3 separate regions of the Homo sapiens genome follow, and all the other regions are linked to region 1. The links come from fine-mapping of genetic effects on gene expression. A gene starts in region 1. Each other region holds a variant in brackets. All regions are shown on one strand. Distances are between the middles of the regions.

Region 1 (11,142 bases):
GATGACCCTATTACCTTAACTGGGAACAATGTTGTGTAAACCAGCATTGTAACGGCTTAATATAACATGGGATAATAAGTTACTTAATGCTCTTAAAACACTTTTATTCCAGAAATTTAGAAGAGTTATTTTAAAACTTTTTTTGGATATTCTTATTAAATCTCAATACACTGACCAGAAAACCCAAGTAGGTATTGTGTTTCTACAACTTAATATTCATGCAAATGATGATATCTACCTATATTACTGGCTATGTTTTGATTAGGGATCAGTTATTGAAGTAGCTGTAACAATCCCCAGCTACTCAGATAAACCTGTCCAAACCTGGAGGAGAAAGTTTTTCAACCCAGGGTTCGAAGAGGTGGTGTTCATTGCCTTTAATGGCCCAGGCACTAAGATTTACACAGTGAGAGGTGAGACTCTTTAATGTGCTGGGACTTAGCCCATGATGATTTGTTCTGAGCCATTTGCCACTAAAGTTAAATCCTTATAAATATAAATTATTAGCCATACAGCTTCCTTTTTCTCCTGCTCAAGCACAAGCCTGGATAGCGCAAAGGCCTAAAAATTTTCTAGGGCATTTAGAGATAATGAAAGATGGCCACTTTGATGCACAAAGACCTAAATTTTAGTCCCTCACTGATTAATGATTTGACCTTTGGGTGGGTCTTAATATCTGTCCTCTATTTTATCAACTGTGAAATGGCAGAATTAAATAAAAGTGGTTTCTAAGTTTCCTTCCAGTTCAGAGATTTAACACTATTGTTTGTCCCCAATACAAGAAAAGTTTAAATACCAATCAGTGGTTATCAAATAATTCACCAAGATCTAGAATAACACTGTCTAATATCTGAAAGTAAAATGAACTAAGTGAAAAATAGAAATATTTTGCCATTTAAAGCAGAGTTTAGTCAAGGTATAAATAGATCTGATCTTTCTCTATTTGTAGGCTCTGCATGAAAAAGTTAAAACTGCTCTATCCATTGACCAAAGAAAATAATTAAAGAAAAATATTGAACATTCAAACCTATGATAGGACTAGATCAATCTACTTTCAGATATTTCTTAGAAAAAAAATTGTAAAACTTTCCAGATGGCACCTTGATTTATTTTTGGTCTAAAATAATTGCATTTAGTCAGGAATAAACAACATGGAAAGAAGAAATATTAATATTGAAAAAATATTTTAGAGAAAGAGATTAATAGTCATAAGATTGGTATAACGGGAATTTAGCCTGTCACTGTAGCCTATGAGGCACTGTGTGTTGCAAATGTGACACAATTATTCAAGCTGGGGATTGAATGACAAATAATGAAGCAAGAGATCTTAGGGAGTAAACGATATAAAAGATAATTGAGTCCGTGTTGCTGTACCCCGAAACTGCTCTAAACCATAAAGTTTATTAAATAATAGTAACAATTGAAAAATAGTAGAGGGAATGTGGAAGGATCAACTCAATCAGAATTTGGTGAGGGCATAGGAACTGAAGTCACGCTGTTCCACATTTAAGCAATGCCACATCCTGTATTTTATTACCAATGATAATTTTTATTTTCTTATTGTCTTTGAATGCTTTTAATCTTTCCCTTTGTTGACAAATAAGACCAATACAGTTTTGGTGTTTGCCATGGTTTGCATATTTGCCCCCTCCAAACCTCGTGTTGAAATTTCATCCCCACTGTTGGAAGTGGGGCCTGATGGGAAACGTTTGGGTCATGTGGGTGGATCCCTTATGAATGACTTAATGCCATCCTTGCGGTAATGAGTGTGTTCTCTCTGTATTAGTTCCTGGGGGAGCTGATTCTTTAAAAGAGTCTGACACCTCTCTCCCTGCTCTCTTGCTCCCTCTTACCATATGATCTGCACACGCTGGTCCCCTTTCACCTTCTGCCATGAGTAGAAGCAGTCAATGGCCCTCACCAGAAGCAGATGCTGGTGTCATGCTTCTTGCATAGACTGCAGAATTGTAAGCCAAATAAACCTCTTTTCTTTATAGATTACTCAGCCTTAGGTATTCCTTTATAGCAACACAAAATGGACTAAGACAGTGTTCCTCTAATTACTGATGAAGGAGTTGAGAGAATGCCTAGGTCATATTCTGGGTCCAAGGATAATGAATCCCAGAAATTTCAGAGCTTTGGGGCAGGTGTTAGAAATTCTACTATATCAAGCTTTTCTACTGACAAAAAGAAGAAAGAGAAAGAAAGAAAGAAAAAGAAAAAAAGAAAGAAAGAAAGGAAAGGATCTTCAAGAACAAATTTCTTCAAATCAGGTACGAAGGTCATTAATTTCTTCCTTGTTAGTTGGTAATGTTTTTTTTTTTCTACTCTAGATCAGCAGTGTGGGAGGTGGCTAAAATAGGGAGAAGCTTGTGAAACTATACTATGCCTTAATCTTGGTCAAAATATATAACTTTGATTTGTTACCAGCCTTTTTTTGTGTGTATTTCTATGACTTCATGCAGATACAATTCTCTGAAATATGTAAGTCCTAGCAGACTTGTCTCTTTTTAAATGATTCTAGGACCCCAAAATATCATCACCACTGAAATTAAGATGTTGGCACTGGTACTAGAATCAATAAACACAATGCAGATGCTACTATGGTAGCATATTAAAAGAATTTGAAAAAGTTGAAAAAAGATTTTCATCTAGCAGAGCTTTGGAGAAGAGCAATTTATTGTATCACAGACCTCAAGTGACTGATAAACACTAAAAATTACTTCTAATAATCATTTATTTCACAAATATGACTGCTTACTCTGGGCTATTTATAGTAGTAACAATGAAAATAGTGTGCTATATTTCTTCCATAAAGACTTTTACTACAAAATAACTGTCAGAAGGGCATGGGCTCCACGTTGCCTTTTTCTAGTCATTATGGTTATCCATGCTCTCTTATTTGTTCTGGTGTAAGTCCAATAGCATACTAATTCAAGACCATCTGTTGGGATTAAGATTGTGGTGCATTGTTTCTCTGGGTGCAAAACTAATTGTCTTTTATAGATTGATGAAACTGAAGATTTTATTTTGCATAATCTTCCCAATTAATTTAGTGCTGATTTTCACGCTTGAGAATGAGAGGTGGCAAATCTTTGGTTTGAGTTACCCTATTTAATGTTGGAGAATGAAAGGGAATGGATGACTAAGTTGGACTCCAACCTCCCACCAACTTTAATCAAAACAGCTCCAAGGCAGGAGGGCTTTAGTCCATTTCCCCCATCTAGGAATCACCTGTTTGCTTCTTAGTGGCATTATTATTCTGCATGTTTTTAACCTGCCTCAGCAAAAAGAGAGTTGACCTGAAAAGATGCTACTTCCTTGTCTCTTGATTCTCATCTTACAAAAGTAAAAAGTGTGACTAACACCCATAGGCTATCAGGTAAATACATGGTTGTTCCCTAGGAAATTCCGTTGTTATTTCTGCATTATACCCACCGTTTCTTCTTTCTGTTACCAAAGCCTCACAAAACTTCCTCAGTTCCTCGAAACCTGTTTTGTGAGGAGGAGACAGTGAAAACACAGACGTTCGCATAGATACTTAATGATGCAGTAGTTGTTATAAGTGAGGCTCACAGGTCTTACCAGCCTGAGTTAAAAGTTCATTTTGCCATTCTCTGGTTTTAGTATGACAGCGGACAAGTTACTGAACCTCTCTCTGCCTCCATCTTGGAAAAATTCGAATTCTTACAACATCTACTAAGTACAAGGGGTCCTGGAATAATATTTTGTTCAATGTCATTTTGTTATAACATTGATGAGAAAAAAAATTCAATTCCTGGGCCAGGCTCACTGTGTGGAGTTGACATGTTTTCCCCATGTCTGTGTGGGTTTTCTCCAGGTCCTGGAGTTTCCTCCCACATCCCAAAGCTTTGCCCATTAGATGCATTGGTGTGTCTACATGGTGCCTGTCTGAGAGAGTGGGTGGGTGTATGAGTGCCCTTTGACAGTACTGCATCCTGTCCAGGGCTGGTTCCTGCCTTGTATCCTCAGCTGCTGGGACAGGATCTGGTCAACCGTGACCCTGAACTGGAATATGCAGGTAAGCAGTTATCTTGTTTTTATCAATCTTTCATAAATGTATATATAGCTTAGATTTATTTCAATGTTTATTATTAGAGGTGTTTTGAGTATTTAGAGGTTTAGTGATGTTTTTGTGACTAGGAATATGCCATAAGAGCTTAACTCTTATTTATATCAATTAGCTCTTGGGAAAATTGTCTTCATTATCAATTGTTTCACTTTATGTCACAGTTTCCAGAACCTACAGAGGACATTAAGTGAGGACTTACTGTATATAGGTGGTTGTGCTTGTGAAGGATTAAATGAGGTAATGTGTGTGAAGCACTCAGGACAGTGCCTAGCACCTGGTAAGTGTCCATGAATTGGAGGCTATTATTGCTGTAATAAGGAAATTCATACACATTAAAATGGCTAAGAAAGTTCATTTTAAATAACCGTAACATGCACATTTGTATTGCTTTCTCGGATGATCTTGCTATTCTCTATTTCAGAGGAAGTCCGTGGAGAAGCCTGCCTGTTAGCTGTCTAGGGGTCAGGTGGCTTCTTGGCAGTATATATTACATGATAAACATTGACTTAATATGGACCATAACCACAAGGTAGAAAATAGGGAAACAGGGAGTGGAAAAACCACAGTGATCCTTTCCTAGAGAGAGACCAAAATATTAACCGCTGTAAACCTCTCATGTTACAGTTCGAACACATCTTAATAAATGATTAAATCTACTCTCTCATTTCATAAGTGGGGAACTGAAGCCCCCATAAAAGTTAGGGGCAGAACTATGACTATACTCAGACCACTCTTTCCCTGTATATTATATATACCTTTTATTATAAAAAATTTCAAAAATCACAGAAATACAAAGACTAGAACAATGCACACCTATGTACTCATCATCCAGCTTTAATAACAATCAAACTGTTACCTCTCTTAAAAAAACAGCTTTGATTCTGAGTCTGGTGTCATTTATACTCCTTCACAGAGATGTTCAGAACCAGTATCTTAGAGCACATCCCCCAGGCAAAGAAATGTAGCAATAAAAAGAGAAGGACATAGCATGAGAAAAAAAGGCAGGCTGTCAACCAATGCCTAAAATGTAGAAAGTTCTCTCAAGTTGTTTTTACAATAGTCTGGAAAACACAGTCTCATTCTGAAAGGACACTGTTCCTTTAAATTGCTTACTGATCCCACCCAGATCTTGCACCCTGGCCAAATGCCTGACCACTCTTGCTTTGACTTAGTCGAATAAACATGAACAAAAGACTGCAAAAGATCCTAAAGCAAAGACACTTTTATTTCCCACAGAACAGAACAATATCAAATAGCTAACTTCACCCCCAACCACAGTCCTTGCTGTTGGCATTTACTCAACTAGTCTTTAATTCCTGTTTGACAAACTTTATAAGGTAAGACATAACAGATTTATTTTAGTCACTTGAAATCAGATAGGACCATCAAGGAACTGTGGAAGACTAAATGACTTACTTACATAATTATTAGGTGAGAAAGCTTGTCAATAGTTTGTATTCTCTGCAATTACTTCAAATCAATTATTAGAAAAATATTAACATTGTTAAAATGTAGAAATTTAAAACTTAAAATTATTTTGAAATGGATTTTTAATTTACAGTCTTCTAAATTGTTTTACAACGATGTTAATATATTTTAGGACATCTTTTTCTTAATTTGGAACAGGGTTTACAATTCAGAATTAGTTATAGAATACTTTACAACTTGGCTAATTTGTCAATTTGAATAAAGTCTTTATTCAATCATTTTCTATTTGTGTAGAAACTGAGATGCAAACATTGTAACTAAAGTTGGTGAACTCTGATATAAGATCATTTTATTTTTGAAAAATTATAAAAAATAAAGTATCTTGGATTTATTTACTGATCCTGATATTTACCCCAAATAAATTTTAGGCCAAAAGTAAAACTACGGTATTTGATTAATAATTATGATTGTTTCTGCATTTATAAAATGTAACCTATAGTAAACACAGAGGTTCACATTTCTTTCACTTAACTAATGGCACTGTTTCCTCTGAAACCTATTTTGCTTGTACGTGACATCAGAAAGAGAGAAAGGTGAGAATTATTAAAAACAGAGGCAAAATAAAACATGGTAAAAAGTGATTAGAAATGAGTGGGCTCTCAAGATGCCAAATTAATAAACGAGAAAGATATTTCAGGGAAGCAGTAGAACTAACAAGCTAGAGAAACAAATCTAGAGAGGTATGAAAATGTCCTCTGGCTACAATAGGGAAACAGAAAGAAATAACAAGACTTTGGTTTGGGAGAGCTAGATTAACAATGTCAGAGCAAATAAGAACAAAATATGAGATACTGGGATTATTGTCAATGGAAAAGTTATGTTTGTGAATATCATATATACAGGGATCAGGTACAAATTCATGATTATATGCCAAGAAAACAGTAAGAGCAGGTGCTTAGTTTTGGGAAAAGATAAATCTTTATTTAAAGCCAGTATTTCTAAAACCTTACATGAAGGGTTTTGAAGAGTTGCTTGATTATGTTGCTTATAAAATCTTGCTCAGTTCTCAATGGAATTCAGTTCTCAGCCTCTTATTTCCAGAACTTCTGAGATGTTCCTTATGGTATGAACTCAACCAAAGAGAAAAGTCATATGTAATACCATGGCCATGGTGTTATTCCCTTTCCCCTTTGAAAATGCAATAACAACTGTGTTTTTCACATAGCCTTATCTTTACACTAACCTTCAGACTTAAAGTTGTACATCATTTATTTTTTTCCTTGGTTAGCAAAGGGACAACTTGAGGAGAGATGGCCTTTGTGTGTTCTGTTTCCTTAGCACATTTCTTGGTTTTGTTTTGTTTTTAATACCCAGCTGTCTTTACATTTTAGTATACCTTGTCTGAGGATCAGTTGGCATTTGGCCAATTGCTACACAAGATGTTTGGTCATACCTATCCAAAGTTCTTTTAATACACTTCCAGCTGGATGATGCTATGTGAGGAGCAGACTGTGGCATGAAGCCATCCATTGGTCCTCTCCTAACCCAACAGTTTTGTTTCCCTTTGGGGTTTATCCATCTGGCATGTATGAAAAAAGTCAGTCTCCATCTCACTCCTCACTGCCTTTGCATATATTTCCACTCTCTACTCAGAGTCTGGAAAAATCGTGCTCATGATTTCCCAGATTCTTATCCCCTAAAGGCAAGGTGCCAAAGAAGGAAAATGTGATTCCTTTTCCAGAACTCCTGAAGTCAATAAAGTTTCAGCAGGCAAGCATTTTTAAGCCATACTAAGTATTGATTCGAAATAAGCTTTCTCGTTCCCATTCTCTTGGGTATACTGAGGCAGCAACACATGAGTCTTCTCCTCCCAGGGAAATCTGTCAGTTTAAGAGTCAGTTGGTGTGTAGCTAGGCATATTGACTGATGAAGATTGAGGATTTTAATACAGAATTAGATTTTTCGTTGTTAATCCACCCAGAAAAATAGTTTCACGGGGCTATTCAGAGGGGGTGCTTCTTGGCTTTAAGTCCCGTTTCTGTCCATTAGTTCTTTTAGCCATCACTGGAAGAAGAGTGTTGCTTTTAAGCAAATCTATTATTTTTGCTCTCATACTCTTTTGATTCATTGCATATGCAGCTTTGAACCCCTGGTGGAGACAAAGTTTCCAAAGCTAGGGTAGAAAAGAGAGATGGGGTTCTATGGAAACAGAAGGGTCGTTTAATTTTTACCTTGACCTCTGAACTCACTGAAGTTATGTGTGTAGTATTAAGCCTGAAAGGGTGGTGGTTGTCTACAGTTCTACAAAATACTAGATTTGTCAGGAATCAGTTATAATGAAAGTGAATGAAATGACCATATAGCAATCTGAATTCCCCCTGAAGAATTTGGAAATGTCAAAGCAGACCCTGTGATTGAACCACAGTAATCATATAGAGCGGGATTGAAATGTTTTTAAATGGCTCTCCCAACTCTATGCTCCTCAAAATACAATGCGGAATTAAGAATACTTAAATATAGTTCTTTGAATATATAGAAATATTCACTAATAAATGTTTGGTCATGGTGCCATGATTTATTTGGATTGAAATCTTTCAAAATCTCAATGTGAATATTTTTCTAGAAATATGAATGAAAACCTCTTTTTTCCAGTCACATGCCAGTTTTCAACCCTGCTGGCTTGAAATTTAAAAATAACAAACACCATATTTTATTAAAGTATTTGTAACTGACTTTTCTATTAAAGGTGCTACAAGACAGATGATTTTTCACCATCTACCATAATGTGGAACAGATATTTTGTCTTCTATCTCCTGCTTTTGTCAGCGTTTACGAGTCAAACAGTATCCGGACAAAGAAAGAAAGGACCAAAATCAAATTTGCTTGCAAGGAAAAGTGATGTCCAGGGTAAAAAAAAAAAAATTGTTTGTTTTTAAGTTTAGCCTGTTAAAAATACTTATGTGAATTTTTCTAAATAGCATTTGATATAAATAGCAAGCCATATACATGTATACATGTGATAGTCTACTTTGATAAAATTATATGATGATAATATACCTTACATACTTATAGCACATCAGAGTCTTTAATAAGAGCACTTGTGCACTTATTATCTCATTTGAGCCTCACAGTAACCTTGTAAAATAGGCAGGACGGAGATTGCCACTCATAGTGTAGATTAAAAAAATTGAGGTCTTAACAGGTCGAGTGGCATACTCAAGGCCATAGGCAAATTAACCACTGAGACACAGAGCTGGGATTTAAACTTAAGTTGTGTTTAAGTTAGGTTTCTTCTCCACTTACTCTTGGTATAGGGGGTATAGTCATTTTCTCCCTTGATTTCAAGAAAGTTTAAAAAAAAATAGGGACTCACCAATATGACACAACCTGAGAATTAGAGTATCATTTACTTCTAGACAACTATGCTCAGTGTTAGTTGGATTTTTAAAATGTGATGCATCTTGACTTCCCATTTCCTCCCACTTTCAGCAGGTTTAACATTGAAAAGATGCTCAGAATAAAAGATATCTTATTTATTTTTAATTTGCATGATTTTACAAGGAGAAAATAATTCATAAACTTAGACATTTAGTTTTTTACAATTGAAGCCTTCTGTCCAACGTGTCTCTCTTTCTCTCCTCACGCTGCTCTCAACACCAAACAATATACAACACACCACTTCAGGGCTTTCCGTATGCAAATTTGTTTCATGATAGGAATAATTATTTTGCCTAACCTGTTTATTCTGTTTCAGGCTCCATTTGTTTCATAGATATTGTCTTCATCGTGGACAGCTCTGAAAGTTCTAAAATTGCCCTCTTTGATAAACAGAAAGATTTTGTGGATAGCTTGAGTGACAAGATTTTCCAATTGACTCCTGGTCGCTCCTTGGAATATGACATCAAACTGGCAGCCCTTCAGTTTAGCAGCTCTGTCCAAATTGATCCACCTTTTTCTTCCTGGAAGGACCTGCAGACATTTAAGCAGAAGGTCAAGTCTATGAATTTAATAGGGCAAGGTACCTTCTCTTATTATGCCATTTCCAATGCCACTAGGCTACTTAAGAGAGAAGGGCGTAAGGATGGTGTGAAAGTGGTTTTGCTGATGACTGATGGCATCGACCATCCAAAGAATCCAGATGTTCAAAGTATTTCTGAAGATGCCAGAATTTCAGGAATATCATTTATCACCATTGCACTTTCTACGGTAGTCAATGAAGCCAAACTTCGTTTGATTTCTGGGGATTCATCCAGTGAACCCACTTTACTGTTGAGTGATCCAACCCTTGTAGATAAAATTCAAGATCGTCTGGTAGGTACCTAATGGGTTGATTATACAGTTATCATCATAATATTGACATATTTGTTGTAAATCCCATAAGAAGAGATACTGGGTCAAAAAGATGGAGAAAATGAGAGTTAACACTGAAAACAGAAAGAAGAATCTTTCTGAAGTGTCACTCCACTTTCTTGGCAGTTTACTCCAGACAATCTGGAAAAGTTCCAGGCTAATTCCCTGGAATTGCATTTTTAACTTTATTGCTAGCTGATGCTGAGGATTTTGGAAGGGGTTATTTTCCAATCATATACCTTAAGCTCCTGTTTATACAGCCTACAATCATGAACATTGCTGACTTATATTCAGGTTGTGCTCAACTTGAGGTGTTAGGCTATATTTGTACCAAGTTGGTCTTTTCCCATTCCACATCTGTACAGGTATTTTTGACATAATCTTGACATATTCTCTCTTACTCTTCTAAAGGACTGAGTATTTTTGACTCTGTCTCACCTATTGTTACATTATGCTACTCAAAGTTCATAGACTTCCAATTTTTAAAATTACCTCCTTCTTTCTTAGATGTTCTCAAGCCCATCCAATTTAAAATCATCTGCAACCTGCAGTCAAGCAACAGTTTCTCCCATCAAATCAATGAGTCCCACTTGATAGGTCTGGTCAGCTTTTCTTTGTTTGTTGCTCAGCTGTGTATAAAAGCCTTTCCTTGCTGCTTTGTAAAACACACGGCACCACAATCAAAAGGAAATCCCTCTTCACAATATTTCTCAAGGAGAAAACGCCTAGAGATAAATTGGTTGATTGGCTGAGTGTTAAAAACTGATTTTCTTAAAAACTTGGATTTCTTTGATTTCCTGAGAAAGGAAGGCAAAGGTGTCCTTTATGTACTGAGCGTTTCATATGGCTGTTTTCTACAGCTTGCACAGAAAACTCAGGCTCTATTTCAGAGATTGTTTTGCTCCTTTTGTCTTATCCCTCGATCTTTTTCTCAACATTACTCTTATCTTTTTACTCTCTGTTGCTTTCAGCATAAGATCTGAGGTTTTCTTACCTAAATAATAGCTCTTAGGTATTGAGTACTCTCTCTGTATTAGGCATTTTCCTGAACACTTTATATATTTTATTTTATTCAATGTTTGCCACAATCTTATGATGTAGGTAATGTTATTATACCCATTTTGTAGTTGAAAATTTAAGGCCGGTGAAGACCTCACAGTTTGCATGCTTAACCCTATAAAGGCATATTGAGAGAGGAAATAGTAACTGCTTTTTAAAAAAATATTTTCTCAATCAGAACTGCTCTGAAACAGTTTGGTAGCAGCCCTCCT
Region 2 (11,142 bases), 39 kb before region 1:
AGCAAGCTTGTCTAACCCACAGCCCAGGACAGCTCTGAATGCGGCCCAACACAAATTTGTAAACTTTCTTAAAACATTATGAGATTTTGGGGGGATTTTTTAAGAACTTTTTTATTTTTTAGCTCATCAGCTATTCTTAGTGTATTTTATGTGTGGCCCAAGACAATTCTTCCATTGTGGCCCAGGGAAGACAAGATTGGACACCTCTGCTTTATAGCAAGTTACTGTACTGAATACTGCAGGCAACTCTAACACAATGGTAAGTATTTGAGTACCTAAACACAGAAAAGGTAAAGTTAAAATACAGTATTAAATCTTATGGGGCCACCATTATATATGCAGTCGATTGTTAACAGAAACGTCATTGTGCAGTAGATGACTGAAAATGAATTCAAAGAGGTCACTGCTAGGAGGTAGAAATATTAATATGTCCTGCATGTTAAGAACATGGTTATTGTATCACATATTTTTTCTGCTTAGAGATCTTTTTATTGATAACTATGCTACAGTTGATTATCAGAATTATCAAATAAGCAATATGATGTCAGCATGGGTTTTAACTTATGAGTTTTACATATAAATTTTTAATATATCTCTGAAAACGAAGTAAAATATATTTATGCATGTTATGTACCACTAAAGTAACAAAATTTTATCTCCTAAATTTGAGACTGTCCTATACATAAATAACAGAAAACGTTTTACTGATGGCTGCGAGGAAAACAAGTTTATTTAAACATTAAAAATCAGGGTTTAGGCCAGGCACGATGGCTCATGCCTGTAATCCCAGCACTTTGGGAGCCCGAGGCAGGCAGATCACTTGAGGTTAGGAGTTTGAGACCAGCCTGGCCAATGTGGCAAAACCCTGTCTCTACAAAAAATACAAAAATTAGCCAGGTGTAATGGCATGCGCCTGTAATCCCAGCTACTCAGGAGGCTGAGGCACGAAAATCACTTGAACCCAGGAGGTGGAAGTTGCAGTGAGCCAAGATTGTGTCACTGCACTCCAGCCTGGGTGACAGAGAGAGAGACTCTGTCTCCAAAAAAAAAAAAATTAGGATTTAAACATTTCTTTCAAATCAGCAATCAGATACTATGCTCTTTGTAGCTACTAATTTGTTTCATTTTAATATCTATGTAGTAACTAAGCAATACAATTATCCAGTTTATAAGAAATCCTAGCTATTTTGCCCCTTGAAGTCATTTTGCATAGACAAATTCTCAGTTCTCTAGATTAGATTTTACCTTTTTGTTTGTTTGTTTTAAAGAAAAAGAGAGACAGGGTCTCTATGTAACCCAGACTGGTTTCAAACTCCCGGGCCCAAGCGATCCTCCTATCTCAACCTCCTGAGTAGCCGGAACTGTAGAGTTTACTCTTTAAGCATGAAAAATATTATTTTCATGATGGATTAAAGCAGGCCAATATTTTTTATACAACTTTCTGCCATCTTAAAAGGAAGGAATTATACCTACTAATAACACTGTGAACTTGCTATACAGGTCTGTAGAAGAGATTCCCTCAGAGCATGCATTCTTCTCATCCTGGTTGATCTAAGCACTTAGCCCATTCAATAAACTAGCCTCTCAGTTCCTTTGCTTCCTTATCTCCAGTGGTCTACACCTCCAAGACTTTAGCTACTCCTTTCACAGCCACACTTGAAACTGTCCTCCTCCAAAAGACCTACTTTCTAACCACAACCACATAGCCTTCCAAAAATCTCACTTCCTTATATTTTTCACAACCTCGCAGTGTCTTCACCACTATTATTTTTACTTATCAGTCTTATCCTGTCTTCATTTTCATCTCTATCCAAATAAGATCCCAAGGGTCAAGTGAACCACTCTCTTGCCAATATATTTAATTATCTTGCCCTACTGTCCTTTATTCTGCCTTCTGGTAAAATAATGTTACCCAGTAATCCTCCCATATTTCTCAAGACAGCTCTCTCTCCTCTTCTCCATATCCTCTTCCTACGACCTCCCTGCTCCTTCTCAACAGCAGCCATAAAATGGGAAATCCCTCAGCCTCTGGTTATTGAAACTCAAACATCCTGCATACAGCATCCTTTCCCCCTTTCCTCTGGCAAATGTGGAGGTGTGCACCCTTGTATCTAAAGCTAAAGAAACCTGTGCTCTGGATCCCATTCCCTCCCATTTCTAGGAACTTCGCTTCACTCCCTTCTCTCTGCATCTTTAACCTCTATGGGCTTCCTTCAATTAGCATTTAAACATGCTTAAATTAATCCCATGTTGAAAACAGAAATAAAGCAACACAAAGCTCCCGGCTCCAGATTTGTCTCCTCCTACTGCGTATCTTTTTGTCCTCCTTTATATAGTCAAATTCCTTCAAAAAAAGTATTTATAATTGATTACTTCATTTCCTCAACCCACTCTGAATTTCTAATATAACTGCAATTTGCTATCCATACCGCCAGTGAAAGACCTTCTCCTAGTCCTAAATTCAGTGAGTCCTTTTTAGTTCTTATTTGGCTGGATCTGAAGCATGGAGCACCGGACAACTGACCTCTCTTCCACATGAATGTATACTAGGTTGGTACAAAAGTGATTGCGGTTTTTGTCATATAGATCTTTCTCCTACATCTCTCGACAATCTGCCTCAGTCTCCTTTAAGCCATCTCTTTCTTACTCCAAACAATTCCATTTACTCTATCAAATATCATTTATTTCTGACATACATTATATTCCTCCCCTGGGCTTTGAACTGATATCCTATTGCCCAATGGACGTCTCTACCTAAGCATCTTGATTTCAACTTGCTCCAAAATAAACCCAAATACTCTTCCTGTGTTATTCCTAATTAACATACTTAAAATTAACTAGTTTCCCAAACTAAATATATGTGTGCTACCTTTGACTTTTCCATCTTCTCCACCCCTTTATCTAATTAATCATTAAATTTTCTCCTATTCTCTAATGTATCCACATTTCTCTAGCTCCTCTGCTACTAACCTTGGTAAGGATAGCATCACGTCTTGCCTCCTTGCAGCAGGCTTCTATCTGATATCCCTACTATCAATCTTGATCCTTTTAAAACACAAATCTGTCACAAATCCATCTGTTTCCCCGTCTTACAAGATGAATCTCCCTAAATTCTTAACATGATTTCTAAGTCTTTCTTGAGTTAGCCCACTGCTTACCTTTCTAGCCTCCATTCTTTCCTCACTTCCTCTCTCATGCTCTGTTTCAGCCATAATAATGTGCTATGCTCTCTACCCTCTGGGTCCACTGCACATGCTGCTCCCTGTCTGGACCTTGTCTTTAACTGTACCTCCTCTGAGAAACCTCTAATCCCTGCAACCAGATTAGGAGTCCTTCCTGTAATTAACTGTCTGTTCTTCCCTATGTTATAACTGCCAGCTTACTTGTCTATATTCTAAACTAGAATATAAACTCCTCAAGAGCAGGGATGACATTGATCCTGCTCAATCTCCATGAGGGAAGAGATTTATGTATCTTCTTGAGAGTTATGTCTCTAGTTCCTAGGATAACTCCTGGCATATAGCATGCATGTAGGTAATAAATACTTGCTGAATGAATGAGCTTACTTCATATTGTAGTTGTAAAAATTAAAGTAACATGGGAAAAGCAACTAATTCATAGCAAGCACTTATATATATACTATTTGTTACCAAAATTAAAATTTAGCTGTATGCTCTAATAAACTTGTGTATTAGGTTACTGTGGACAAGATGGCTCAATGTGTTGACTTACCATGTGTTGATTATTAGAGATACAATTAGAGGAAAAGGTATGGCCAAATAAAACAGAAGACTGAAATCTAAGAGTGGCATATTTGACAGTATTTCTCTACTTTTCACCTTTGGGTAGTAGAAACAAAAATATCTATACCAAACAAAAAAAAAAAAGCTGAAAACCTAGCAATGAGAGAATGATGAATGAGGAAATCTTTCCAACAGTAGTGTTTCTTTAGTCTGGGTAGAGACTATTTTGACACAGGGGTGGGATACTCAGTTTGTCTCTAGTGCACCAGAAACATAAACATATTACATTTTCCCCTTTTGCTTTTCCTCAGATGCTGGCTTTTCCTTAAAATATATCAAAATACAAAAAACACAATAACCAACCTCTAAATAATTGAGTGCAGTGTGGCCTGATCTACTATATAGCTAAAACACTATAAATTCTATAAACTTGGTGTTTAATTCTTTGTAGCAATAGGCAATGGCTCTAAAATCTTGAACCATGGTACCAGGTTCATTTGTGGGAGTAAAACAGTATGTGTGCCCTTTTACCTATGTTAATAAAAACAGCAGCTTCTAACTAAACTTATTCATTTTACTATTTATAATAAAGGTTACTTTTTTTGGTGGAGGGCTAATACAAAAACAATAAAATCAAACTGATCAGTAAGTAGTCTACTGCATCTTTCAGTAAAGTGAACCAAAGTAATTTGAAAGACGTTAAAAAAACACTATAATGTAACAGTTTAATTAAAACACTTAACCTACTCTAAAATATTTTATTATTTTGTATTTTGTTTGTATGGTACTGATACAAGCTCCGTAAAAAATCAAATTGGATTTACTACTTCTATTACTGCTCTTTGACTAAATAATGTTAACTACTTTTCTAACAGCTTGACTTGGGCCCAAATTTGACTTACCAAAAGTTAGAGAACGAATCCTAGATCACAGAGATACAGGGTGAGCATCCCAAATCTGAAAACTGAAGTCCAAAAGGCTTCAAAATCTGAAACTTTCTAAGTGCTGAGATGATATTCAAAGGAAATGCTCATCGGAGCATTTTGGATTTCAGAATAGGGATGGTCA[A/G]TCTCTAAGTATATAACGCAAATATTTCAAAATCTGAAAGTATCTGAAACATTTTTGGTCCCAAGCCATTTTGGATAAGGTATACTCAACCTGCAATTCTAATATAACCCATTATTCAATTCCAGTAAAAGAATAGGAACAACTGTTTAAAGCAGTCAGAAAAAAAAAAAAGTTTGGTTTTTGTCACTTTTATTCTTTAATAGTTTACCATACCAATTTTCAATCCTACATTAACTCACACGTTAATTAATTCATTCACTAATTAACCAAGGACTATATCAGGTATAATTCCTCCACGTTAGGCCATATTTCATATCATACTCCTTGCTGTTAGATGGCTCAATGAAAGTATTTGAGGAGCAAAATAAAAAGGGATCTCCTTCAATTAGAGATCTTTTTAGTTTTTAAGAAGCAAAATGTTGCGATAAAACCTGAACTAACAATCAGTAATCTGTAAATTGTCTAGTGTAAAACCTCTCAAAGTGGGTTTTCAAAAAAATAACATTGAATAAACGTGTGGATAGATTTAAGAAGATCAACATCACTTCAGAGAATTAAGACTCCCTGCAAAAAGGGTTTTGGATATAAATACAAGTATGCATTTAACTCAACAATACAATGAAATATCCAATCAGAAAACAAAAAAAATTATGTACATGATCCTGAAATAACTAGATAATTTCTGCCAAATGACAGGGGGCAAAATAAAAGTACAAAAGTTATAAACATATTGGAGAAAATGAAATAGAATTTTCTTACCCAACGATGACTTTACAATTGATTTAATTCCTGCATAAACCAATGATCCTTTGTTGCCTGGAGATTTCTGATCCATATCTTCTGTGTATTGCTTCATAAGTATTTAAATGCATAGGAAATACTAGTGATGCATGACAATATATTTCAAAGCTAAATTTATTTTGATTTGGAGCCAATTCATAATAAGTATCAGTGTAAATAAGGTGGTTCGACTCTATTGCAGAGATACACTTTTCTTCCTCCTACACAATCTACAAAGCAGTATTTCAAGTTCGAAAGTTTAGAACAATTTTACTTTATAATGTTAGTATTATGTAACTTGTATTTGTATATAAAACATTGAGCATATTTACAGACTGACCTTTTGGCAAACTTCAAGAACATTTCTACCTGATTCACCTCACAAAATTCACAATGAAAAGGATATAGTGCAGAGTATACCAGAGTGACTTGAGCTGTGGATCTTCATTTCCAGCTAAAATGTGGTTCCTCCACACCTGCTCTGTATCAAGTCCATACCTTGATAAAGCCCGAAGACGCATCTTCGTTGCTATATCTTTTTCTAAAGAATTATCATTTTCTTCTTCCGTACATTCATATAAATGACGACCACAAGCCCACATTAAAGATGTAATTGGGCTCCAGGCAAGAGATATCCTTTCAAAAACAGTGAAGTCTGACATTGTTCGGTTGGGAGTTACAACTATCATTCGATTTTGACTTGTTGGATGCCACGCAAAGGAAGCAATGTAATTGTCACAAGGTTGCACACTTCTTTCAATTATTGTGGGTTCAGTTTCATCCCCAATGGGAGTGGGTGTATGCTGCATATCATACAATCTAATAATATTACTATCCCTTGTTAAAGTGGCAAGTAGACCAGTCCTAGTGGGACACCATGCTACTTTTGTTAAGGGTTTTGGTTGCTCAGTCAATGTCAAAACTGGCTTCTCAAATTTTCTAAGATCCCATATTGCAACCTGACCTTCATAGAAGGAAGCAACACGATCGTGGAAATATGGGTCTACCGTCACACCCTGAACAGCTTTTGTATTTACGAACATCTTTTGGCTTGTATTCCGAAGATCAAATATAGCTAGGTTACGATGCATACCAGCAAGGAGAAGTTTCTGGTCTCGTGGAAGCCAACAAAGAGACAGACAAGCATCATTCTGTCCTAACTCATAAAGTGGTTTTGTTACTAATAATGTTGTTTCAGTTTCACCTGCTGAAAGTTTCACTTTTTCCATGGGAACTATATCAGGAGTATATTTGCTGCAGATATCCCATATTAGCACTGAAAAGTCAGCTCTGTGCTTATCTAAACCAGCAGCTAGCCAGTTACTATCCAGTGGATTCCAGGCAAGGGTATTACATTGTCGTGCATGTTTTGGAACAAACTCTTTTCCTATCAAATCTTTGAACTTTGAGTTATGATCTTGACCAAGGCTTGTAAGTACAACTCGACCATTTGCTTGTCCAACTGCCAGCAGACATTCAGGATCATAATTAAGATACCAGGCAACACATTTCATATAGGGTGTATCTGAATTTATTGACAGTAATGTAGCTGCAGAGTCTTCAGATAAACGTAAAGATCCAGCTTTGAGTTCTGAATTCACAGTAGATTCCACATGATAAAGACTTAGTTCTGAGTCACACACAACAAATCTATCAACATGGTGTGGTGCCCATAAAATATCAGGTTTGGTACCGCTCATGTTTACTGATGTGATCAAAGGGTCCACTCAGGTCCATTCACTGAAAATGTTTAAAAATAAAAAGTTTTAAAATATCAGCAAAATATAATTCTTACGTTGAATAAACTATTCAGAAAGTCAGAAAATTCTCTATTCAAGAACCCTCTTTTTCAATATATTTGTATTTCTTCTCTCTATCTGCTATGAATTCAAGAAAATATTTATTGAAAAAAAAGGAGAAAGAACAACCACTTCCAATAAAATGAGCTGGTAGGAATCTGAGAATCCCATCCTGGCTATATTTCCCATGATCAATTATCTTAATTGCACTGTTACTAGTACCTTCAGCTTAACTTCAGAGTTATAACAACTTCAGTGTGGTAAGCAAATTAATAAGTATTATCCCTTTGAAGGGGGGAAAACTTATGAATCATATTCCTAAGCAATAGTTTAAAGCAGCACTGCCCAATAAAACTTTCTGCAATGACAGAAATGTTTCATGTTCATGCTGTCCAATATGGTAGCCACTAGCCACATGTAGCTACTGAGCACTAGAAATGTGACTAATTCAAATTTTAAACCTTAATTTTAACAAATTTTAATATAAATAACCATATGTGGTCATCGTAATGAACAATGGAGATTTAAAGTACAATGTCATACTAAGACAGCGGTTTCTTCAACTTTAGTAATAAGCATCAGCCTTGTATGGCAGAATAAACACTGGAATGTACTGAACGAACCTGAGTTCTAGTCCTAGCTCTGCCGTATATTAGTTATATGCCTCAGAAAAGTCATTGTGTGTGGGGAACCCCTTTGTTTTCTCATCTACACAATGTAGGAGCTGGTTTAGATTAGTATTTCCCAAACTTCAGTCATGTAACACCTATGCCATTAATATTTTTCTTTAAACTGACTCATTTTTAAAATCTGAAAATTGACTTTAATCTCTTCATAAGGTCCATGAATCATGGTATGCTATGCTAAATATATTTTTAACCTACACTGAAATATATAACTATTAAAAAGGCTTGATTGTGTTTTATCTACAAAGCATCCTGTTTATGACCAGTGGTACACACATACCACACTCTGAGAAAGTGGATTAAGTGATCATTAGAGGCTCTTTCAGTTTTCGCTTCTACAAACTTTGAATAAGTGTTAAAGTAGAATTTTTGAAAAAAATAAATATTCTAGCAGTAGAAGCACACGAACTAAATATAGCTATAGTTAAAAATGGTGTTTCAATAATTAAGGTTGCCTACAAAAATTTAAATGCCTGTTTCTAACAGAGGCTGGCAAAAGGTAATAGATTCAAAAAGAATGAACATACTTAAAATCTTCATTGCAATTGGCATCTGTACAACTCTGTTGTCAGTTCTCATAAGGTAAAGCTATGGTTCACTTACCTCTCTATCCTTAGTGCCATATATAGAGCCTGGCATAGACTCCTAATAAGGATACACTAAATAGTTCAACTCAAACATAATTGCTTTTCTTTTTGATCTTGCAAAAGTTTCAGTTGGGAATTACCAGTCTAAAACTTCATAGACTCATATAATTTAGACCAGGGGTCCCCAACTCCCAGGGCCGCAGACCAGTTCTGCTCCCTGGCCTGTTAGGAACCAGGCCACACAGCAGGAGGTGAGCAGCAGGCAAGGGAGCTAAGCGTCATCTGTTATTTACAGCCACTCATCTCACACACTGCTGCCTGAGCTCCGCCTCCTGTCAGATCAATAGCAGCATTAGTTTCTCACAGGAGTGCAAACCCTATTGTGAACTGTGCAAGAGAGGGATCTAGGTTGTGCATTCCTTGTGAGAATCTAATGCCTGATGATCTGTCACTGTCTCCTATCACTCCCATATGGGACCATCTAGTTGCAGGAAAACAAGCTCAGGGCTCCCACTGATTCTACATTACGGTGAGTTGTATAATTATTTCATTGTATAGTACAATGTAAATAGAAATAAAGTGCACAATAAATGTAATGCGCTTGAATCATCCTGAAACCACACCCCCACCCCTCATCCGTGAGAAAATTGTCTTCCATGAAACTGGTCCCTGGTGCCAAAAAGGTTGGGGACCACTGATTTAGGAATTCTTATACTGGTTTTATTTCCTTCTTTAGCATTTCTCAAGCCCAAGATCAATCATTTCAATATTCTTACTAGCACCCTCAATGTCTTCATTTCCTTGCCACTTTGGGTTTGCCTTTCCCCAGTCCTAGATCAACCCAATTATTTATCATCTTGTCTCCTCACTCAGGCTTCCAAGTGCTACCACACAGAGGATAGTCTCAAGCCTCTGAAAACTGATTTCAGTAAATTAAGGTATACAACATATCTGGTGTGTGGTGCTGGAGGCTTTTCTTTTATTCATCTTTCCCCTGGTCCTTCAGAAATTTTGCTTTATAGAATACCAGAGTAAAAATCTTTCTACAACACAACCTTGACCAGGCTATCCTTCCTTGCTTAAAACCCTCTAATGGTCTTCAGCTGCTCTTAGTATAACCTACAAAACCCTAAATGCTTTTGGTCTCTGCCTACTGCACCGGCCTTGTGGCACAACATTCTTGCTGTCCTTTTACACTGTCCTTTCCACTTCCTAGAGTATATACCCTCCTCCCTCATCACCATACCTTTGCAAATGATGTTTCCTCTGGTTAGAGCACAGTTCCCTGTCTTCTGGGCCAAGTTAATACCTGCTCAACCTTGACGTCAACCACCCTCCATCCCCTCCCTAGTCGAGGTCTGGTTACTCAGACATACACTGTCATTAAACAGTATTCTTTCCCTTTAATCATCCATCTCTGTCTCTTCTACTGGATTATACACTCCATGAGAGCAGGTGAAGTATTTTTGGTGTTCCATTGTACCTCTAGTCCCCAGTACAGTGCTAGGCACTTAGTAGGAAGTTAATAAACATTTGTTAAATAAATGCATGTGCTGAATGATCCCTCTGACACTTCTCACAACTGCTATCTCCAAGTTTTACCTATTTCCTCATGCTTCCACTTCTACGCTCCCTAGGAGAGGCTGGCTCCGGCCAAGATTTAAATGTCTGCTATTATACTTTCATTTATTCTGTGACTATTGATTGGGCACCTTCTATGTTCTAGGCATGGTTATGAAGCTGGGAACACAGCAGCAAACATGAGCCGATGAAGTCTCTGGTCTAAAAAAAACCTGCACTGTAGTGATAAAATTAAGTCCAACCTTAAAAAGAGTTTCAAAATTTAAGAATGAGGAGGAAGAGGGGCACCTCACGTAACAGGAAGCAGCTACGACAGCAAAGAGGAACAGATACTGCCAAATAAGGGTTCATACTCATACCCCCACAAAGGAAATCTCTTAATTGGAGACATCATGAGATCTGGGCCATTTTCCCATCTCATTGAAAAATCAATGTTTAAATAAACACACTTTTTATCTAGGCTTTCATTCCACAACCCGACTCTTTATACCAATGGTCTATGGTAAGCAATCTTGATGCCACAAAGAAAAATCCATCTTACAAAACATAAAATACGAGTTTTAGCATAAAATTTAAAACTTTGATTTACATGACTCTCAACGGAGAATATCAGCATTTCTTCCCATGTTATGCACCTAAAATACTTCTATTGCCATCCACAAAATCTGATGACAGTAATTCATACAGAATCAAAACTTGAGAGAAAAAGACTAGCTAAATCTTCTAATTTCACAAAGGAGTAAAGTGAAGACCAGATGTTTGGGTGGTTATCCAAGGTCTCTCAACTTCCGTCCTAGATTACTGCAAAGAAAAGGATCAGCTACACGATATGCAGGACGTGGTGCAAAATAACAATGCAGGGCCCCTCATTTAAAAATTATTTACAATGTCCAGACAG
Region 3 (11,142 bases), 68 kb before region 1:
CACTTCATGTTTATTGCATCACCTAATACTCCCACACTCTGAGGTAGGTATTTCTGTATCTTTCTTTTAACATATGAAGAAACTGAAGCTCAAAAAGGTCAAGTCACTTACCGAAGATCCCGAGGCTAGGATTATAATTTATGTTTCAAAGACCATGCTTTAACTACTTGCAGTCAAATGAATGACTGAAATTGAGTCATCTAATTAAATGAAGAACTACATTCTTTTAAATACTTACTATGTGAAGCATTGACAATGGGAAGCTACTTTTAAAATATACCATTTTAAAGGATAATAACTATTCTGGAAAGTGGGTTGAATTGAAAAACAGAGCCTAAAAGGAATGTTACTTCTAATATTAAGTATGAAGTCTGTCATCAAAAAAAGCACCAATATTACTTCACGTGGATTATTTGTAAAGGAATCATAATTTCTTGATTAGATACAATGACTTCAACCCAGATTTATTCAATCTTTTAAAAATAATAAAAACACTTTTAATAAACACATCTATTGATCATGTTTAGGTAAAGTATCTTGTTGAGTTTATAAACCCAAATACCAGTGACTTAGTGATAAAAATGAGAAAATAATTTGATTGTCCATGCACACTGAAATGCAAAACAGACACCAGAGACATAAACTGCATGTTTGGGCTTCACAGAAAACATTTAAGAGGTTGACACATACATACAATCTTAAAAATGTCACCCTCATATATTAGGATTACAAATAAGCATATTACATAATAGACTTTACATTCATGTTTTATACTGTATTTCCAAAACTTGTAACTATTTGAGATAATTTTACATTTTACTTTAGCTAATGAGAATGAAAATGCATATGAGTCTGACATTACTTAAAGCTGACTTTCATATTTAAGACAGTAAGTTTGAAAGGAACACTTCAAATGAAATATTAAAGGTAAAGGGTATATGTTAATAAAATGAAATCAATTAAGATTTACTCAAATGAAGGCTGGAAAAAGTACCCTTAATAGCAATCTTTAAAAAAAAATTGCAATTACCATGTCTTTCATTTGAAAAGACTGTCATGCAGGTGAGACATTTAGAGTAAATATGTACTACTTCCAATGTTTTCCTAGAAAAGGGTTTTATGTATCAGACACTCAAGGTAAAAAATAAATTTAATCTACTTTTAATATTTAGGTTACACCTCAAACTAATCTGACAAATCTTAGTTTTTATAAGGCAAAACTGCTAATACGAAAGCTCTTAAAATTCTTGTTTTATTTCTCCAAAATCTATAAAATAAGATTTACTCTTTATGAACACAGCTTCAACTACAAAATTCCTAGTTCAGTCCCTCTGCATATGGCAGATGACAGAGAAGCATCTTGTAAATTCTTTGTATTTCTCTTACAACTATCTAGCTATGAAATGAGAAAAAAAAATGTTTTAAATAAAGTACCTGACTTAGCCCCAGTAACACTTACATTTAAAAACTTACATCTAAAATGGTCTCTGAAGTGACCCCATTTCCCCAACACTTCCTAGTCTACCTTGGAAAGAACAAGGTATGGTATTCCAAATCAGGACGGAATTTGACAGCACAGAAACACTGACATAGATTATACTAAATGGCTAGTTACATATAATCTTGCATAGACTTTGTATGCAGTAAAATGTTCTCAGGTGATGAGGATAAGATGACAAATTAATATGGAGAAAAACCTTTGAAGACAAATCAGGACATTGGAAGGCAAAAGGTAGAAAGTGAAAATTTTGTATGTTCACCTGAAATGGTACATGTTTTTCTCTACTGAAGAGAAAAAGTTGTAAGATAGATTCTTCATCTTGGCTTTTCTAGGAAGACGATAATGTTATGCCAAAAGATTGCTTATCTTAAAATCAAAGGAGGGAAAAGGCTCCTTTAAAAAATACATATTTATACATACACACATAAATATACACACACACATAGACACATATATAACAGACAGTAATAAAAAATATTCTCCAGTGTGGGATAGGGGCTCTGCAATTCTAAAAGTAAAAATCTGTAATTTTAAATTAATCTGAAAGAAATCTAAGCACAGCTGAACTTAAAACTATTGTCTGAATCACAGAATTAGTCATTTTATTTTAAAAGTGCACATATTTTATTGAAAGATATCCAGTTTCAGCTTTGAAGATATAGGCTCAAAGTCTGTTCTTGGCTCTTCCAGAAATTCTGCTTCTAGAGTGTTCATAATTTCAACCAAAACTTAGAAAGTTTTTCTAAATCAGACTTTTCAACCTGCTGAACAGAACTCATGTCTATACTTCGATGTTTATTTTGGCAGCATTTGTCTCTGTGAAGCATATCAAAATCACTCAAACATCAAAACTGCTGATCTGATAGAATGATTTATTTTCCCATTACAGGTAAGTCATGAATGGCTTGTTCTGAGGTATGTTTCTGAGCTATGAAGGACACCTACTAGAAAGCTCCACACTTGAAGGGTTCTCTTAAGGTGGTAACATTTTATGGCTGGACAGTCTCTGCAGGTACCAGATTCCCTGTTGTATCCAACTGCATACATTTACACGTGCATGCCGACACAGGGCACTCTGCATGGTCCCTAAAAAAATAGGTCAAATAACAGTTAAAAATCCAAATTAGACAGACATACATTTATTTATTTATTTATTTTTTAAGAGACAGGGTCTCCCTATATTTCCCAGGCTGTACGCACACTTTTGGGCTCAAGTGATCCTCCTGCCTCAGCCTCCTGAGTAGCTGGGACTACAGGTGTGCACCACTGTGCCCACCTGTTTACTTATATCTATCTATAATGCAACTTTTCAAAATGGCATTTGGAAAAATATAGAAACTAAAACCCAGAGAAAAAAAGCATCAAAAGCATCAAATTATAAACTACTGCCAAGCTGAAGTTTAGGGAGAAGTTAAGAAACACATACCTTTTACTTTCTACATATATGGCAAGATATTTCATTTATAGTTGTGAAGGTGACAGGGATGTGCTCAGAGTTTAAATTAGCTAGTAAGACAAACTGGGTATAAATGCTGTATCAACCAGGAGCACAGGGCCACTGGCACCATTCAAAATGAAATTCAAATATGTCTTGACAGTCTTAATTGCGTGACTACATAAAAAGCTTACTTAGAAGAGAACTGAGGCAGAGGTATGATATGCTCTTTTAACATTTCATTAGTAATTCAATTGCATGGTAAATTACAGAATATTCAGTGTAAAAACTGTAAACATATCCTCTCCCCGAATAAAGTTAAATAATGTTATTCAAACATTTAACTCATACAAAACATTTAAATTAGTTCTTACATAAGTATTACCTTTATAGTTTAAGGTTACATAGGATATCTAATCACGACATGTTCACACCACCTTTGTTAACATGAGTGACAGTAAAAAATAAAATTCATACTTTGGCTAAATGCTAATAGATAAACCCAAACTATTTAGAAGCAATCTGTGTTATCCCCCATAACTCCAAGCCTATCAAAGAAGAAATGTGCTGATTACCTGAACCAACTAAGCATATGTCCAGCATGTCCACCGTGCCTGCAATTATGACACCATGTAAACCAGTTGTTAAATTGGGCTAATTTTTTGTCCTTGCTCAAGTCCACTTTTTCATCTGATTTGGTTCCTCCTATGACAAAATAAAATGATCTTCATTAACTATATCATAATATTTTATTTAAAGTTACTTTCAAAAAGCATTTCTAAAACTGTGTTCCAAATATGAATCACACATCATATTGAAATAGCAATTTTGATGGTAGGTTCTAGTTTAGATGAAGCGAAACTGAATGACAGAAGCTCCCCTACATTTTTAATAGCCAATATAAAAATGGAAAAAAAAATCCAAACCCACTAAGAAACAATCTAAATTTAAAACTTTGGAGAGACCAAATCAGTAGTTTAAAATCTTTCCACAAGGAAAATACCAGGCCCAGTTTACAAGTGAATTTTACTTAACATTCAAGGAACAGGTAGGGCTGGGTGTGATGGCTCATGCCTGTAATCCCAGCACTTTGGGAGGCTGAGGCGGGCAGACCACTTGAGGCTAGGAGTTCACGACCAGTCTGGCCAACATGGTGAAACTCCGTCTCTGTTAAAAATACAAAAATTGGCCGGGGGTGGTGACACATGCCTGTAGTCCCACCTACTTGGGAGGCTGAGGCACAAGAATTGCTTAAATCTGGGGATTGGAGGCTGCAGGGAGCCGAGATTGCACTGCTGCACTCCAGGCTGGGTGATGGAGCAAGACTTTGTCTCAAAAAAAAAAAAAAATCTATCAAGGGACAGGTAATTCTCATCTGTACAAGCCCTTTCAAAGAAGAGAAAAAGCAGAAAGTTTCCCAATGCACTTCATGAGACTTGTGTAACTTAAACAATTGCTTAATTAGACTTAATATTTTTACTTAATTGCTATCTATAAAGACATTATGCATCGATAACTATGTTAAAAATTTTGCTTGGACCATTGCAGGTCACGCTTTCATGACCAAAAGGATAATCTTGCAGTCGGGAATAGTTTTAAAAAATATCCGTTTTTGCTAATGATATGAGGTGAAAGGATGTGTAAGTAATTCAATGATTAAAGATGTAAACACACTAGAATTACTCCTGAAAGGGTCACCAACAATTAATAATGAGAGGGCAAAAAGGAAAGGGGGAAGAGATAAATAAAATATAGATCTGATATGTACACTACTTTACACCTTTGTGTAAAGCTCTCATTAGTGCTTGTCACTTTGTTTTTGTAACTTCTAACATAAACAGATAACAGACTGAATCAGAACAAGGCATATCCTTATATTTTTCTGACGAAACTGGAAGTATTAAGGTCTATCTCACTGCCAAGTATAAAGGCTTAAGATCAAATGACTTCAAATTTTAAAAGATTTATAGTGAATTATGAAGACAAGTGCCACAGAACACTTTAGGCGAAACTAGAGTTTCACTTATGCATTAACTCATAATGTAAGAAGAAAATGAAGGAAACCAGTAGATAATCTAACTTTTAAAAAATGTGTCATTGTCCAGAAGTTAAATTCTGTAAGGGCAGCGATTTTTGTCTTCTTTACTGTAACATTTCTAGCACTTGGAACAATAGGTACCAAATAAACATTTGTTGAATAAATAATATTTATAATGTTTATAATGATGTTAGAACTGTTTCAACAGATTTCTAATCTTCAAAGCACAATTGAGTATAAAAATATCAACTCTCAGTTAAATAAGCTTATAGAAATTCCAGCTATTTGAATCACAAAGCATGATGGATGGATGCAATCTCTGATTGCAGGCAAAGCACCAGGGAGGTTTAGATACTCGAGCCACTAGCCAGCACTTTATTTTTTTTTAAATTTTATTATTATTAAAGTTTTAGGGTACATGTGCACAACGTGCAGGTTTGTTATATATGTATACATGTGCCATGTTGGTGTGCTCCACCCATTAACTCGTCATTTAGCATTAGGTATATCTCCTAATGCTATCCCTCCCCCTTCCCCGCACCCCACAACAGTCCCCGATGTGTAATGTTCCCCTTACTGTGTCCATGTGTTCTCAAATTGTTCAATTCCCGCCTGTCAGTGAGAACATGCGGTGTTTGGATTTTTGTCCTTGCGATAGTTTGCTGAGAATGATGGTTTCCAGCTTCATCCATGTCCCTACAAAGGACATGAACTCATCATTTTTTATGGCTGCATAGTATTCCATGGTGTATATGTGCCACATTTTCTTAATCCAGTCTATCATTGTTGGATATCTGGCTTGGTTCCAAGTCTTTGCTATTGTGAATAGTGCTGCAATAAACATACGTGTGCATGTGTCTTTATAGCAGCATGATTTATAATCCTTTGGGTATATACCCAGTAATAGAATGGCTGGGTCAAATGGTATTTCTAGTTCTAGATCCCTGAGGAATCGCCACACTGACTTCCACAATGGTTGAACTAGTTTACAGTCCCACCAACAGTGTAAAAGTGTTCCTATTTCTTCACATCCTCTCCAACACCTGTTGTTTCCTGACTTTTTAATGATCGCCATTCTAACTGGTGTGAGATGGTATCTCATTGTGGTTTTGATTTGCATTTCTCTGATGGCCAGTGATGATGAACATTTTTTCACGTGTTTTTTGGCTGCATAAATGTCTTCTTTTGAGAAGTGTCT[G/C]TTCATATCCTTTGCCCAGTTTTTGATGGGGTTGTTTTTTTCTTGTAAATTTGTTTCAGTTCATTGTAGCTTCTGGATATTAGCCCTTTGTCAGATGAGTAGGTTGCAAAAATTTTCTCCCATTTTGTAGGTTGCCTGTTCACTCTGATGGTAGTTTCTTTTGCTGTGCAGAAGCTCTTTAGTTTAATTAGATCCCATTTGTCAATTTTGGCTTTTGTTGCCATTGCTTTTGGTGTTTTAGACATGAAGTCCTTGCCCATGCCTATGTCCTGAATGGTATTGCCTTTCTTCTAGGGTTTTTACGGTTTTAGGTCTAACGTTTAAGTCTTTAATCCATCTTGAATTAATTTTTGTATAAGGTGTAAGGAAGGGATCCAGTTTCAGCTTTCTACATATGGCTAGCCAGTTTTCCCAGCACCATTTATTAAATAGGGAATCCTTTCCCCATTGCTTGTTTTTCTCAGGTTTGTCAAAGATCAGATGGTTGTAGATAGGTGGCATTATTTCTGAGGGCTCTGTTCCGTTCCATTGGTCTATATCTCTGTTTTGGTACCAGTACCATGCTGTTTTGGTTACTGTAGCCTTGTAGTATAGTTTGAAGTCAGGTAGTGTGATGCCTCCGGCTTTGTTCTTTTGGCTTGGGATTGACTTGGCAATGCGGGCTCTTTTTTGGTTCCATATGAACTTTAGTTTTTTTCAATTCTGTGAAGAAAGTCATTGGTAGCTTGATGGGGATGGCACTGAATCTATAAATTACCTTGGGCAGTATGGCCATTTTCATGATATTGATTCTTCCCACCCATGAGCATGGAATGTTCTTCCATTTGTTTGTATCCTCTTTTATTTCCTTGAGCAGTAGTTTGTAGTTCTCCTTGAAGAGGTCCTTCACATCCCTTGTAAGTTGGATTCCTAGGTATTTTATTCTCTTTGAAGCAATTGTGAATGGGAGTTCACTCATGATTTGGCTCTCTGTTTGTCTGTTATTGGTGTATAAGAATGCTTGTGATTTCTGCACATTGATTTTGTATCCTGAGACTTTGCTGAAGTTGCTTATCAGCTTAAGGAGATTTTGGGCTGAGACAATGGGGATTTCTAGGTATACAATCATGTCATCTGCAAACAGGGACAATTTGACTTCCTCTTTTCCTAAATGAATGCCCTTTATTTCCTTCTCCTGTCTGATTGCCCTGGCCAGAACTTCCAACACTATGTTGAATAGGAGTGGTGAGAGAGGGCATCCCTGTCTTGTGCCAGTTTTCAAAGGGAATGCTTCCAGTTTTTTGTCCATTCAGTATGATATTGGCTGTGGGTGTGTCATAGATAGCTCTTATTATTTCGTGATACATCCCATCAATACCTAATTTATTGAGAGTTTTTAGCATGAAGGGTTGTTGAATTTTGTCAAAGGCCTTTTCTGCATCTATTGAGATAATCATGTGGTTTTTGTCTTTGGTTCTGTTTATGTGCTGGATTACATTTATTGATTTTCGTATGTTGAACCAGCCTTGCATCCCAGGGATGAAGCCCACTTGATCATGGTGGATAAGCTTTTTGATGTGTTGCTGGATTTGGTTTGCCAGTATTTTATTGAGGATTTTTGCATCAATGTTCATCAAGGATATTGGCCTAAAATTCTCTTTTTTTGTTGTGTCTCTGCCAGTCTTTGGTATCAGGATGATGCTGGCCTCATAAAATGAGTTGGGGAGGATTCCCTCTTTTTCTATTGATTGGAATAGTTTCAGAAGGAATGGTACCAGCTCCTCCTTGTACCTCTGGTAGAGTTCGGCTGTGAATCCATCTGGTCCTGGACTTTTTTTGGTTGGTAAGCTATTAAGGATTGCCTCAATTTCAGATCCTGTTATTGGTCTATTCAGAGATTCAACTTCTTCCTGGTTTAGTCTTGGGAGGGTGTATGTGTCCAGGAATTTATCCATTTCTTCTAGATTTTCTAGTTTATTTGCATAGAGGTGTTTATGGTATTCTCTGATGGTAGTTTGTATTTCTGTGGGATCGGTGGTGATATCCCCTTTGTCATTTTTTATTGCGTCTATTTGATTTTTCTCTCTTTTCTTCTTTATTAGTCTTGCTAGCAGTCTATCAATTTTGTTGATCTTTTCAAAAAAAAAACCAGCTCCTGGATTCATTGATTTTTTGAAGGGTCTTTTGTGTCTCTATTTCCTTCAGTTCTGCTCTGATCTTAGTTATTTCTTGCCTTTTGCTAGCTTTTCAATGTGTTTGCTCTTGCTTCTCTAGTTCTTTCAATTGTGATGTTAGGGTGTCAATTTTAGATCTTTCCTGCTTACTCTCGTGGGCATTTAGTGCTATAAATTTCCCTCTAAACACTGCTTTGAATGTGTCCCAGAGATTCTGGTATGTTGTGTCTTTGTTCTCGTTGGTTTCAAAGAACATCTTTATTTCTGCCTTCATTTCGTTATGTACCCAGTAGTCATTCAGGAGCACGTTGTTCAGTTTCCATGTAGTTGAGCGGTTTGGAGTGAATGTCTTAATCCTGAGTTCTAGTTTGATTGCACTGTGGTCTGAGAGACAGTTTGTTATAATTTCTGTTCTTTTACATTTGCTGAGGAGTGCTTTACTTCCAACTATGTGGTCAATTTTGGAAAAGGTGTGGTGTGGTGCTGAAAAGAATGTATATGCTGTTGATTTGGGGTGGAGAGTTCTGTAGATGTCTATTAGGTCCGCTTGGTGCAGAGCGGAGTTCAATTCCTGGATATCCTTGTTCACTTTCTGCCTCGTTGATCTGTCTAATGTTGACAGTGGGGTGTTAAAGTCTCCCATTATTATTGTGTGGGAGTCTAAGTCTCTTTGTAGGTCACTAAGGACTTGCTTTATGAATCTGGGTGCTCCTGTATTGGGTGCATATATATTTAGGATAGTTAGTTCTTCGTGTTGAACTGATCCCTTTACCATTATGTAATGGCCTTGTCTCTTTTGATCTTTGTTGGTTTAAACTCTGTTTTATCTGAGATCAGGATTGCAACGCCTGCCTTTTTTTGTTTTCCATTTGCTTGGTAGATCTTCCTCCATCCCTTTATTTTGAGCCTATGTGTGTCTCTGCACGTGAGACGGGTTTCCTGAATACAGCACACTGATGGGTCTTGACTCTTTATCCAATTATCCAGCACTTGATTTCTATTAGATCCTGTTTTACTTTGGAAATGGACTTTTCTGATTTCACATGCCAAAAAAAAATAATTTGCTTCTTTTTCTTTTTTTTAAACTTTTACTTTAGTTTCAGGGGTACATGTGCAGGTTTGTTATACAGGTAAATTGCGTGTCATGGGGGTTTTGGTGTACGGATTATTTCATCATCCAGGTAATAAACATAGTACCCGACAGGTAGTTTTTCGATCCTCCTCCCACCTAGCACCCTCCAGTAAGCCCTGGTGTCTGTTATTCCTTCTTTATGACCATATGTTCTCAATGTTTAGCTCCTACTTATAACATGTGGTATTTGGTTTTCTGTTCCTGTGTTAGTTTGCTTAGGATAATGGCCTCCAGCTCTATCCATGCTGCTGCAAAAGACATGGCTGCATAGTATTCTATGCTGTGTATGTACCACATTTCTTTATCCAGTCCACCACTGATGGGCATTGAAGTTGATTTTATGTCTTTGCTATTATAAAGAGTGATTATTCTCTAACTTAGCTCAGCAATGCCTTTAAAGATCATATTCAGGCTCTCCCTAATTTTCCTACTGTTTCTTATCAGTTCACTTCCTAGGTCCTTTCACAACAATACACTTGCTCTTCCCAAACACCCCCTGTACTTATCATAATACTTACCAATCTCTTCACCCTAGTTCATGTTTTTTACACTTGGTCTGCAACCTGGACGGCTTCCCTGCAATCTTCATATATTAAATCTACCAAACTTTAAAGGACTGGCTTAAATGGTAACTTCCTCCTAAAGCTTTCCAGATATCCTTCAGATAGAAGTAATATTTCCCACTTTCAAAATTCCTAATTCTTTCCTTATATAATAGTCCTAATTCATGTTGGGGGTTTAGATGTGTTTCAGAATCCAGGATGTTTGGGATTTTAGAAAAAAGTAGCAAATATGTACACCTTGAGGGAAGTCTAAAGCACCCTGTAATCAAACTCGTTAGTATTTCTGTAGTGAAAGATGAATATTCACTAATAAATAAGAGAAATAAATATCTTAATAGCCTCACATCAATTCTGAACAGGTTTTGTGGTCAAATGAGATTACCGTAATTTTATTTTTAAAAGGCATTGGATTTTCAGATCTTTTTAGAGACTTTGAAATGACAGATAAGGCATTGTAGACCAGTATTTATTTTCTAGAAAATATCACTTATTTTATATTCGTTAACTATGCTTATTGCACACCAAGAGCTCCAAGAGGTTCTTTGATTTATTCATCTCAGCACATCAGCATTATATTAATGTATCAAGTAAAATCAGTGTTCAAATATGTATTATATATATAAAGAAATTATTTCTGTAGCAAATATGGAAAAAAATTCTATAACAAATATGGAAAAATGTTAATATTTGATAAACCTGAGTGCTATTCGTTATATTAGTCATCATAACAAAGAATTTCAAATGTTTTAAGATTTTTCTTCAAATTCTAGAAAATTATTTTCTTTTCTTACCTATTTCAAAAATAGAAAAGATTGAAAAACTGGTATTCAGCAAAAAGGAAGAGTGCCCAGGTGTAAGAATGCAAATAATCCTTATAGCTTCCTGAGGCTTATGGTCCAAAAGATGTGTTACATTTAATTATTTCTATATATCTCAGTTCATACACATATATGTCTTATTTATGCTATATTTTACCTCGAGCTCTCATTGTTGTAGATATTCCAAATTGTTATTTTCTGTTTATTAGGACCAGAGTTAACATAAAACAGTGATCAGTATGTAATGTATAAAATAAAAATCCTTGATTAAAATTTAAATCAAAACTAAAATGTACATTTAAAA

Alleles and levels. Alleles are on the strand shown, and positions count from the first base shown. SD is a standard deviation of normalised expression in the study named.
For the expression in tibial artery of the gene that starts at base 5,307 in region 1, A is the low allele of the variant in region 2 and G is the other (small effect, 0.26 SD a copy in GTEx).
In carriers of allele G in region 3, the expression in hippocampus of the gene that starts at base 5,307 in region 1 tends to be lower than with C alone (moderate effect, 0.43 SD a copy in GTEx).

The links. PIP is the estimated chance that this variant, and not a neighbour inherited with it, causes the effect.
Region 2: its variant is the best candidate, but not a certain one, in a credible set for the expression of COL28A1 in tibial artery (GTEx, PIP 0.89).
Region 3: its variant is the best candidate, but not a certain one, in a credible set for the expression of COL28A1 in hippocampus (GTEx, PIP 0.66).

What each region holds. Positions count from the first base shown.
Region 1 is chr7:7,530,038-7,541,179 of GRCh38, reverse strand. It overlaps COL28A1 (collagen type XXVIII alpha 1 chain), which reads left to right and starts at 5,307. Exons shown (of 35, transcript NM_001037763.3): 1 at 5,307-5,430; 2 at 8,268-8,428; 3 at 9,276-9,832. The coding sequence starts at 8,305.
Region 2 is chr7:7,568,625-7,579,766 of GRCh38, reverse strand. It overlaps MIOS (meiosis regulator for oocyte development), which reads right to left. Exons shown (of 13, transcript NM_019005.4): 4 at 5,998-7,331; 5 at 5,571-5,669. The coding sequence starts at 7,291. Among named protein-coding and RNA genes, the nearest start is that of MIOS, 7.3 kb to the right of the region's middle. RefSeq lists a silencer at 1,562-1,762 and an enhancer at 10,456-10,515. The variant A/G (reference allele first, on the strand shown) is at 4,812.
Region 3 is chr7:7,598,441-7,609,582 of GRCh38, reverse strand. MIOS (meiosis regulator for oocyte development) reads right to left here. Exons shown (of 13, transcript NM_019005.4): 12 at 3,512-3,641; 13 at 651-2,587. The coding sequence ends at 2,491. Among named protein-coding and RNA genes, the nearest start is that of UMAD1, 37 kb to the left of the region's middle. The variant G/C (reference allele first, on the strand shown) is at 6,173.